Homo sapiens: one gene and its partner. The protein of the gene in region 1 purifies or fractionates together with the protein of each later gene. This does not show direct contact. Each region holds a gene or a part of one and is shown on either strand. Other genes may lie near its edges.

Region 1 (4,399 bases):
GAGTCAGGTTCCCAGAGCCGGGAGGGGACACCTGGGAGTGAGTGAGGGAGGCATGGGCCCCCCCCGTGCTCCTGTGGCGCCCCCCCCAGGCCTTGGAGCCATCCGTGTATAGGGACAGCCCGGGCCCAGGGGGTCTGCTGGCTGCTGGGGGAGGGCTAAACCACAAGGCCAGCCCAGACAGTGACTCCAGCATCAACAGGGATGCCACCCCCACACGGGTGTGCCCTAAACCCCAGGAAATGGTCCTTGGGGAGCCCTGCCCATTGTACAGCTGGGAACATGGAGGCCCAGAGGCAAGGGCTGGCCCGGTCACCAGGCGCCCTGCTCCCACCCCTCGCGTCCTCCAGGTCTCAGCGGAAACCTCCCTCAGGTGTGCTCTCCCTGATCCTCCGTGTTCAAGGCCAGCTCCACCTGCAGCAGCCCCTCTTCTCTTTCCTGTGATTATCAGTGTCGCCGGGACCCACGGAGGGACCCCAGGGTGGGGATGTGCCACTGAGTGCATTGCTGTGACCAGACCCTGTCTGGCGGGGGCTTGGTGGAGCAACTGGGGGCCCCAGGGTGCAGGCGTTGTGCTCTCTGCTCATCCCCCACAGGCCTCCCCCACACCCATGAGGGCACTCACTGTGGCTCTGATGTTCCCCCCTGGGAGGCTCCACCGGGTCTCTTTTTTGGGGATGAGAGCAGTGCCCCAGGCCCGCCGTGCTACAGAGGTTTGTGGTGGGGACGTTTCAGTTGGCTGAACAAGGCAAGCCCCTCAGAGGCCCGGGGCTGAGGTCTCTGTTGAGCCCAGGATGAGGCCTGGGGCCAGTGTGGGGCAGTGGGTGGGTGGGGGGCACCCGGGCCTGGAGCTTCTGGGGGTCTCTAGCCTCACCTGGTCCTCCCGATGGCTGAAGTCAGTGACCAGGGGCACGGGCAATGGTTCCAGGTCCAAGCTGGCTATGTCAAAAATAGCTTGGGGGTTCCCAGGTGCCCTGTCAGGGTAGGCTAGTGTCTGTCTGGGGCCACTCCTGCTGCACACCAAGCCTTTGAGGCACAGAGGCTTAGAGACCCACAGATGCCTGACACCTCCCATCCCAGCGGGGCCCACCTGTAGGCAACCAGTAGCTCTTCATGCCTGCGGCTCAGATCCACCAGCCTCTTGTGGTAGCTGCGGGCAGCCCGGGCCAGCTGCTGCTCACGGCTGCGGTGCGCTGCCCGGATGTCCTCCAGAGTCGCCTCCAGGAATGTCCGGAGGGCCGTGGTGGCTGGCGCTTGGCCTGCACCATCTGCGTGCTCCTGGAGGCGGCGGGCTGGGTCCGCATGGGGCCCACCCCCCATCTTTTCCAACCATCCCCCCACCCCAGCAGGCTGAGCAGTGCCGGGGCCCTGGGGTCTCCCTGAAGCTATCCAGCACACCCAGGCCAGGCTTGGGCTCCCTAGGCCTCAGGGTGCTCCTGCAGGGCTCACCACTGCCTGCCAGGCGCAGTGTTGCAGCCGTAGGACGTACTCATCCTTCAGTTTCTTGAGCTGCAGCTGCAGCCGGGCATTTTCAGCCTCTGCCTGACGGAGCTGGCCTTGGCAGCTGCACAGCACCTGGGGTGGAAGCAGCCCTCCACCTGTGCCCTGAGAGTGGACCCCGGCTGAGCTTCTGGGGCCCCCACCCTCCAGGTCTCCAAGCAGTCAGGGCAGAGCCTCACCACAGCCTGTGTGGCCAGTCGCTGCCCGGCTGCCCTGGCCTCCTCTCGGGCTCCCTGCAGCTGCCGGCCCAGGGTTGCCCTGAAGACACGGGGGTGAGGCTCAGCAGGCCCACGATCAGGGGTTCTCTCTGCTCCAGGATGGGGCCCCAGGTGAGATGGCCACTCACACACGCGTCACCAGTGCCTGCTGCCGGGCCTCCTGATGCTCCAGCGCCCACTTCACTTCCCCCTGCAGCTGTGGGGCACACAGGGCTGGCTGGATGAGACCCTAGGCTTGGGGTCTCTGGTGCTGCCCTCTCCCCTGAGCTAGGTGGCTGCACACTCACGCCGCTCCCCAGCCTGTGCTGCTCATTCTCGGGGTTCATGGTGTTCTTGGGCTGCACCTGAATGGAAGGGAGGGCAGGGAAAGCTAAGGGGTGGGTGAGCCCCAGTTTCACTGAGGCCCCTGCTGAGGCTTCCCTCTGGCCTTTCCCAGCCAGGCTCTCCATATGCTCATGGTAACCTGGAATCTGTGGTCATCAGAGTGTCCAGGCACCTGGGCTTTGTGTCTGAGCTCTTGGGCTGCTGCCCGGGGATGCCTGGGGTCAGACTCCACTGGGACTGCACAGCCCTGGCTGGTGCCATCTCCTCGCAGCTCCAGCTCCAGTACCCGGCTCTCCAGCCGAAGGATCTGTGGGACAACTGGCATGAGCAGGTGCACCTGCCCGCGGGCCACCTGGGGTAGGTGAACATTCACCCGGTGCACGCTCAGGGGCGCGCAGCACTCAGAGGCAGGCTGAGACCCACAGATGCCATGTGCGTGTGCATGCCCATGCAGGGCACGTGTCCTGGGCCTGCACCCCCCGTCCCCCATGCACTGAGGCTGGTTCACACGGCTGCTCACCTCACTCTTCAGCTGGAAGATTTCAGCCTCATGCTGCTCATGTAGGTGGTGGGTTGTGATCTGAATGTCGACCAGCTCCTTGGAGATCTGTGGGTGGCCAGGTGAGAGGTGGCGTCTGTGGGCCCTGCTGGCACCCTCCCTCCTCACGAGCACGCTGGGGCCCCACACCCACCTGCAGCTGCTGCTCCTTATTGAGCGCTAGATCTGGTGGGACCTCTGCTTCCAAGCTGGTGGCCCACACTGCGGTGCCCCCAGGAGCTCCTGGCAGCCAGTCCTTGGCTCGTAGCACAACCTGGGGAGGTACCGCCACCCATTCCCCAGGTGGGTCCCAGGCTGGGCTGTGGCCCCACTCCCATGCAGTCACCAGTCCCGCCTCCCTGCCTGGCTGAGCTGTAAAAGTCCCTCTCCTGGCTGAAATTAGGCCCAGGGTGCAGGAACCTGCACCCTCCTGGCCTTTGGGGGAACGGGCAGACTTCAACCCCATGGCAGGAGCGGCAAGTCCCAGAGGACTCACATTCTCCACCCGCCGAGAGGGAGGTCCAGGCCTGGGGCCTGTGGTGGCTGCGTGCTCCATAGGCTAGGGAACCCTGGCCAGCTCCGAGCCCGGTGCTGCCTCCACGCCCGGCTTCCCCATGGCTGCTGCTGCCACTGGCACTGCTAAGTGCGTTGCCAAGGCCTCTGTTGGTCCCAGGTGACTCCCAGGGCACCGCCCACAGGGGCCGGCCAGACCGGTGGTTGCTGAGGAGGGAGGATAGCTCTTCCTCTCTCCATGCCTCCGTTTCCCCATCTGGGGAATGCGGCCCAGCGCCCCCTGCACATACCCTGTGCAGATGGAACCAGGTGCGTGAAAGCGCCCAGCCTGGGCGCAGCGGACGAGCACGCGGAACGGAGCGGCAGCCCGCCCGCAGGATGCCCTGAGCTACACTCGCTGGACACCTTCTGTGTACCTAGCAGTGCTGGCTGAGCCCCGGGACGGGGGAAGTATATCTCTGCACCTCTGGCCTGAGAAGAGGGGCGCAGACGTCCCCATCAGGGGCCGGAGAACTCGGAAACGACTGGCTCAGCCGGGGCGTCGGGAGGGCTTCCTGGAGGAGGTGCCAGCGCCGGGCGCGGCGGGGTCGGAGCGTGCGCGTGGCGCCCCACCGGGCACGCGCACCGCCGGCGGGCCTTGTGGTCTCATCGCGCGCAGGATCCGGGCCGGGCGGGGGCGGGGGCGGGGCGCGTCCGCGGAGGGGGGCGGTTGGCGGCTCCCGAGCCCAGCGCCGCGCTCAGTCCGGACCCCGTGACCGGCGGCCGAGGCCCCGCCTCCGTCAGTCTGTCCTTCGGGTCCTCAGCACAGCCGTGCCGGTGAGGCGGGCGGCGGGGGAACGCGGCTGTCCCGGGTCAGGGGTCTTGCGGCGGCAGGGCGGGGGGCCGAGGGGCGGGGCCTGGGAGGAAGGCGTGGCCTTTGGGGACTGGGGCTCGGACTGGGGGCGGAGCCGGGGCTGGTTGGGGACCGGCCGGGTTCCGCTCCTGCTGGAGCCCGGTGCGTGGAATTCCACGCGAGTGCCGGGGAGTTCCTGGGGAGCCGGGCTTCTCTTTTGGCCCCCAGCGTGTTGACCGAGCCCGCTTCGCACAGCCCTTCCTAGGGTGTGGAGAGCGGGCCCCGCCCTGAAGGGGCACCGTGGGCTGGGGGGCCTGTTTTGGAGCAGGCACCGGTGGCCGAGCTCCGTGACCATGAAGGTCAAGGTCATCCCCGTGCTCGAGGACAACTACATGTACCTGGTCATCGAGGAGCTCACGCGCGAGGCGGTGGCCGTGGACGTGGCTGTGCCCAAGAGGGTGAGGGCAGGCCGCGGGC
Region 2 (3,500 bases), on another chromosome or scaffold:
CCCTGAATCATCACTTGTTGAAATCGTATACATTGTAGAATCTCCATTTTGAATATCACTTTTTCTTAAACTTTTCTCTGATTCTGTCAAGCAGAAATCAATGTGATCCTGTGTCTTATTTGTATCGTTATTATAAAGTTTATCAGATCTGGCCTTGTAGTTAATGGAACACTTGCCTCTCTAATTAGTCTGAGAATTCTATGAAAGCAGAGACTGTGGCTCATTCAGTTCAACTTAGCAGTTTTGAAGCACCTACTGTGTGTGCATAAGAAGACTTCTGCCCTGAACAAGCTCAAAAATCTACTGGAAGAGACACACATAATACATAAATAGCCATTTAAATGTCATGTTCTCAATGGCTATTGAGCCCTGGGAGTGCCAGGGAGGGAATGATTTTAAATGGGAGATCTGGAAAGACTTCACAGAGGAGAAAGAATTTGAACTGGGCCTTGAAGGATGAGCCACTGATTCCAACATGTGGGACAGGGCCACATTCAGATCCTAAGTCTCCCCCTCCATCCAGCCACTAGACTGGGCATGTCTGCGTCCTGTGAGAAGGGCCCAACTCCTAGTTAGCAGAGAGGAGGAGAGCTAGCTATGCTAGGAAGTAGAGTCGGGGGTCAACCCGGGATGAGGACAGGAAACTCACATCAGTAACATTGACGACTCCTATTTGTGGGGCTGACAAGTCGATGTCAAACGTCTTCTCCCAGTATGGGACCAGCTGTAGAGAGATCAAAATACAGCAACTTAATAGATACTAGGGAGCACATGAATCCAGGAGGATGAGTGTGAGGGTCAGCCCAGGGATGGAGAGGGGACAGTGCGAACTGGCAGTGGATGGGGACAGGTCCACCTGTGAGGGCATCAAGGCAAGGGTAGAACTAAACAACAAAAGAGGAGAAATCCTAAAGGGAGAGAATCGGGAGGGTCAGCTGGGTGCACTGGCCCCTCTTTTCTGAGGAAAACTGGATAGGAAACCCTGTTCTGATCCTGGATCAGATCCTTGTGTTCAAGGTCAAGTCACTTCTCTCTGGCCCTCAGATCTTACATTTCTAAAATAAGGCAAGTATACCTGGTAAGTGCCAATGTTTCTCACGTTTCTCTTTGTTCTTTCAGTTACTCATTCAACAGCGAGTGCTAGGTGTTGGGAATGTAGCTGAGAACAAAATCATCTCCTGAAACAGGGAATCTCTGTGCTATGATTCTATGATTGAGTGTGTATACCCATGTGCAGGACTATTGTGCCTCACAACATTGGTTTTCTTTAGGAGTCAGCCCTAGCACCTGAGCTACCCATCCAGCCTCTGCTCTGGGAATGTGTGTGATGTCCGTCCTGTTTCCCCTTGCTCAGGATGCCCTCCATGCCAACAGTGCCCTTAAGCATGCAACACGCATACCCTCCCAGGGCCCCCCAGCTAGGAGGTGGGGATGGGACCTCTGAAACAAAGCCCTCACTAAGAAGATGTCACAGTCCAAGGCCCCACCTTAAGATAGCAGTGCCTGAGCTGTGCCTCTTACCAGGGGGAAGTCATCAGGGTCAATCCAGATGATGCTAAGATCTGGGTTTTCAGTGTTATCTTGGGCCACAGCCTTGAGAGTCTCTAAGAACTCGAAACCATCTTGGAGGGAACACAAGTACAAGGTATGAGGTGTGTAGAGAGGAAAGGGACCCAGGTGAAACAGGAGTGCAGAGCTACCTCCCTGCTCCCCAAGCTTCACATGTCTAGCCCTAGGCTGTTTGCAAACTCCCAGGAAAGCCTCCTAGTGAGGCCCATGCTCCAATAAACACACCCACCTCCCCCTGCCTTCCCTCCAGTCCAACCCGGTATTCCTCCCTCACCAGGATCAGCTTCCTCTGCGAAGGCCACAATGTGGATTCCATCCATATCATCCTCCTGTCAGGGGGTAAGAAGGAGAACAGGGTTTTGGAGAAGACCTTACTATACTCCCTGAAGTTGAGGAGCCCAGAACAGATCCTAGATGTTCATTGAACCTCAATTTTGTGGAAATCCAGCTTCAGGACCAGATATATTCTTTCGTTTTTTGGGGTTTGTTTTTTTTTGTTTTTGAGACAGAGTTTCACTCTGTCCCCCAGGGTAGAGTGCAATGGCGCGATCTCGGCTCACTGCAACCTCCGCCTCCCGGGTTCAAGCGATTCTCCTGCCTCAGCCTCCTGAGTAGCTGGGATTACAGCCATGCGCCACCACACCTGGCTAATTTTGTATTTTTAGTACAACATTGTTTCACCTTGTTGATCGGGCTGGTCTCAAACTCCTGACCTCAGATGATCTGCCTGCCTCAGCCTCCCAAAGTGCTGGGATTACAGGCGTGAGCCACTGCGCCTGGCCATATATATTCTTGTGATGGTGACCTTTTTCCAAGTGACACTCCTTTCAGCTCCAAGGCCCCACACTTCCTCTGATAATCCCTTTATCCCCAGGCTTGAGGCTCTTCCCTTGTCATCTTCAATTATGTCTGTCTCCCATTTCCTCACACATTCTTCAGTGTAGAAATCTTTCAGTTGCTGCTAGTGCACTGTTTTTTCTTTTTTCTTTTTTTTTGAGACGGAGTCTCACTCTGTCCCCCAGGCTGGTGTGCAGTGGCGGATCACTGCAAGCTCCGCCTCCTGGGTTCAAGCCATTCTCCTGCCTCAGCCTCCCAAGTAGCTGGGACTACAGGCGCCCGCCACCACACCCTGCTATTTTTTTTGTATTTTCAGTAGAGATGGGGTTTCACTGTGTTAGCCAGGATGGTCTCGATCTCCTGACCTCGTGATCCACCCACCTTGGCCTCCCAAAGTGCTGGGATTACAGGCATGAGCCACCACACCCAGCTGGTCAGTGCACTGTTTTTTCTAAAAATGGGCCTGAGGAGCAGTAGGGTGGGGTTTTTCTAGGACTTGAGTCTTCTGGCACCCATGCTTCCCTGAGGGCTTGACCCTGGCCAGGGGCACTCACCCAGGTCTCATACATACTCTCCGGCTTCAGTTTCCTCAGGGTTGATCTAGAAGAGACAGACAGAGTGTCATTACTCAGTGGGTTAGAAGGATGCCCCCTCCAGAGGGTCCTGTAGCAAAGGCTGCCTCTAGGTCAGGCCCAGGGCACAGACAGCTTGTAGCCTACAACAAAGCCATCTGGCAAGGCCTCAACTCTGGGCACCAGGCCCGGCTCATTGCATGGTTAAAGCGGTGGGAGAGGGGAGGGTGGGCAAAGGGACTGGAAGAGAGACTGGGGGAGAAAGGCAAGAACTGGACATCAGGATATTCATTAATTTATTCATTCATTCACTCACTCACTATGATTGAGTGCCCGATATGTTCTAAGCACTATGCTAGGTGCTGGGTACATACAGTTGAACCAGGCAAGCATGTTCCTGCCTTGATGAAGGGAGCCAGTAGTATGGGAGAGTAAGTACTGTATATACTGCAAGGGAGCTTGCAGTGATCCACCACTGCACGCTAGCCTGGGGGACAGAGTGATTGGATATTTCCAGCTGTG

What was found. Proteins that work in one complex are often made in the same cells at the same time.
Region 2: the proteins of CCDC78 (region 1) and CASQ1 purify together in Homo sapiens (affinity purification with western blotting; one study listed by BioGRID). This does not show direct contact.

What each region holds. Positions count from the first base shown.
Region 1 is NC_000016.10:723,235-727,633, forward strand, and holds the start of CCDC78 (coiled-coil domain-containing protein 78), read right to left. Parts: upstream 3,210-4,399; 5' UTR 3,134-3,209; coding exon 3,074-3,133; coding exon of another isoform or gene 2,852-3,073; coding exon 2,732-2,851; exon of another isoform or gene 2,647-2,731; coding exon 2,560-2,646; coding exon of another isoform or gene 2,347-2,559; coding exon 2,179-2,346; intron 2,060-2,178; coding exon 2,003-2,059; coding exon of another isoform or gene 1,912-2,002; coding exon 1,844-1,911; coding exon of another isoform or gene 1,756-1,843; coding exon 1,677-1,755; coding exon of another isoform or gene 1,673-1,676; exon of another isoform or gene 1,573-1,672; coding exon 1,447-1,572; exon of another isoform or gene 1,276-1,446; coding exon 1,088-1,275; intron 972-1,087; coding exon 872-971; intron 703-871; coding exon 623-702; intron 1-622. Other genes in the region: HAGHL (hydroxyacylglutathione hydrolase-like protein), read left to right, coding at 4,276-4,380. UniProt on the Homo sapiens protein: Component of the deuterosome, a structure that promotes de novo centriole amplification in multiciliated cells that can generate more than 100 centrioles.
Region 2 is NC_000001.11:160,197,075-160,200,574, reverse strand, and holds part of CASQ1 (calsequestrin-1 precursor), read right to left. Parts: intron 3,007-3,500; coding exon 2,961-3,006; intron 1,899-2,960; coding exon 1,844-1,898; intron 1,623-1,843; coding exon 1,522-1,622; intron 725-1,521; coding exon 650-724; intron 1-649. UniProt on the Homo sapiens protein: Calsequestrin is a high-capacity, moderate affinity, calcium-binding protein and thus acts as an internal calcium store in muscle. Calcium ions are bound by clusters of acidic residues at the protein surface, often at the interface between subunits.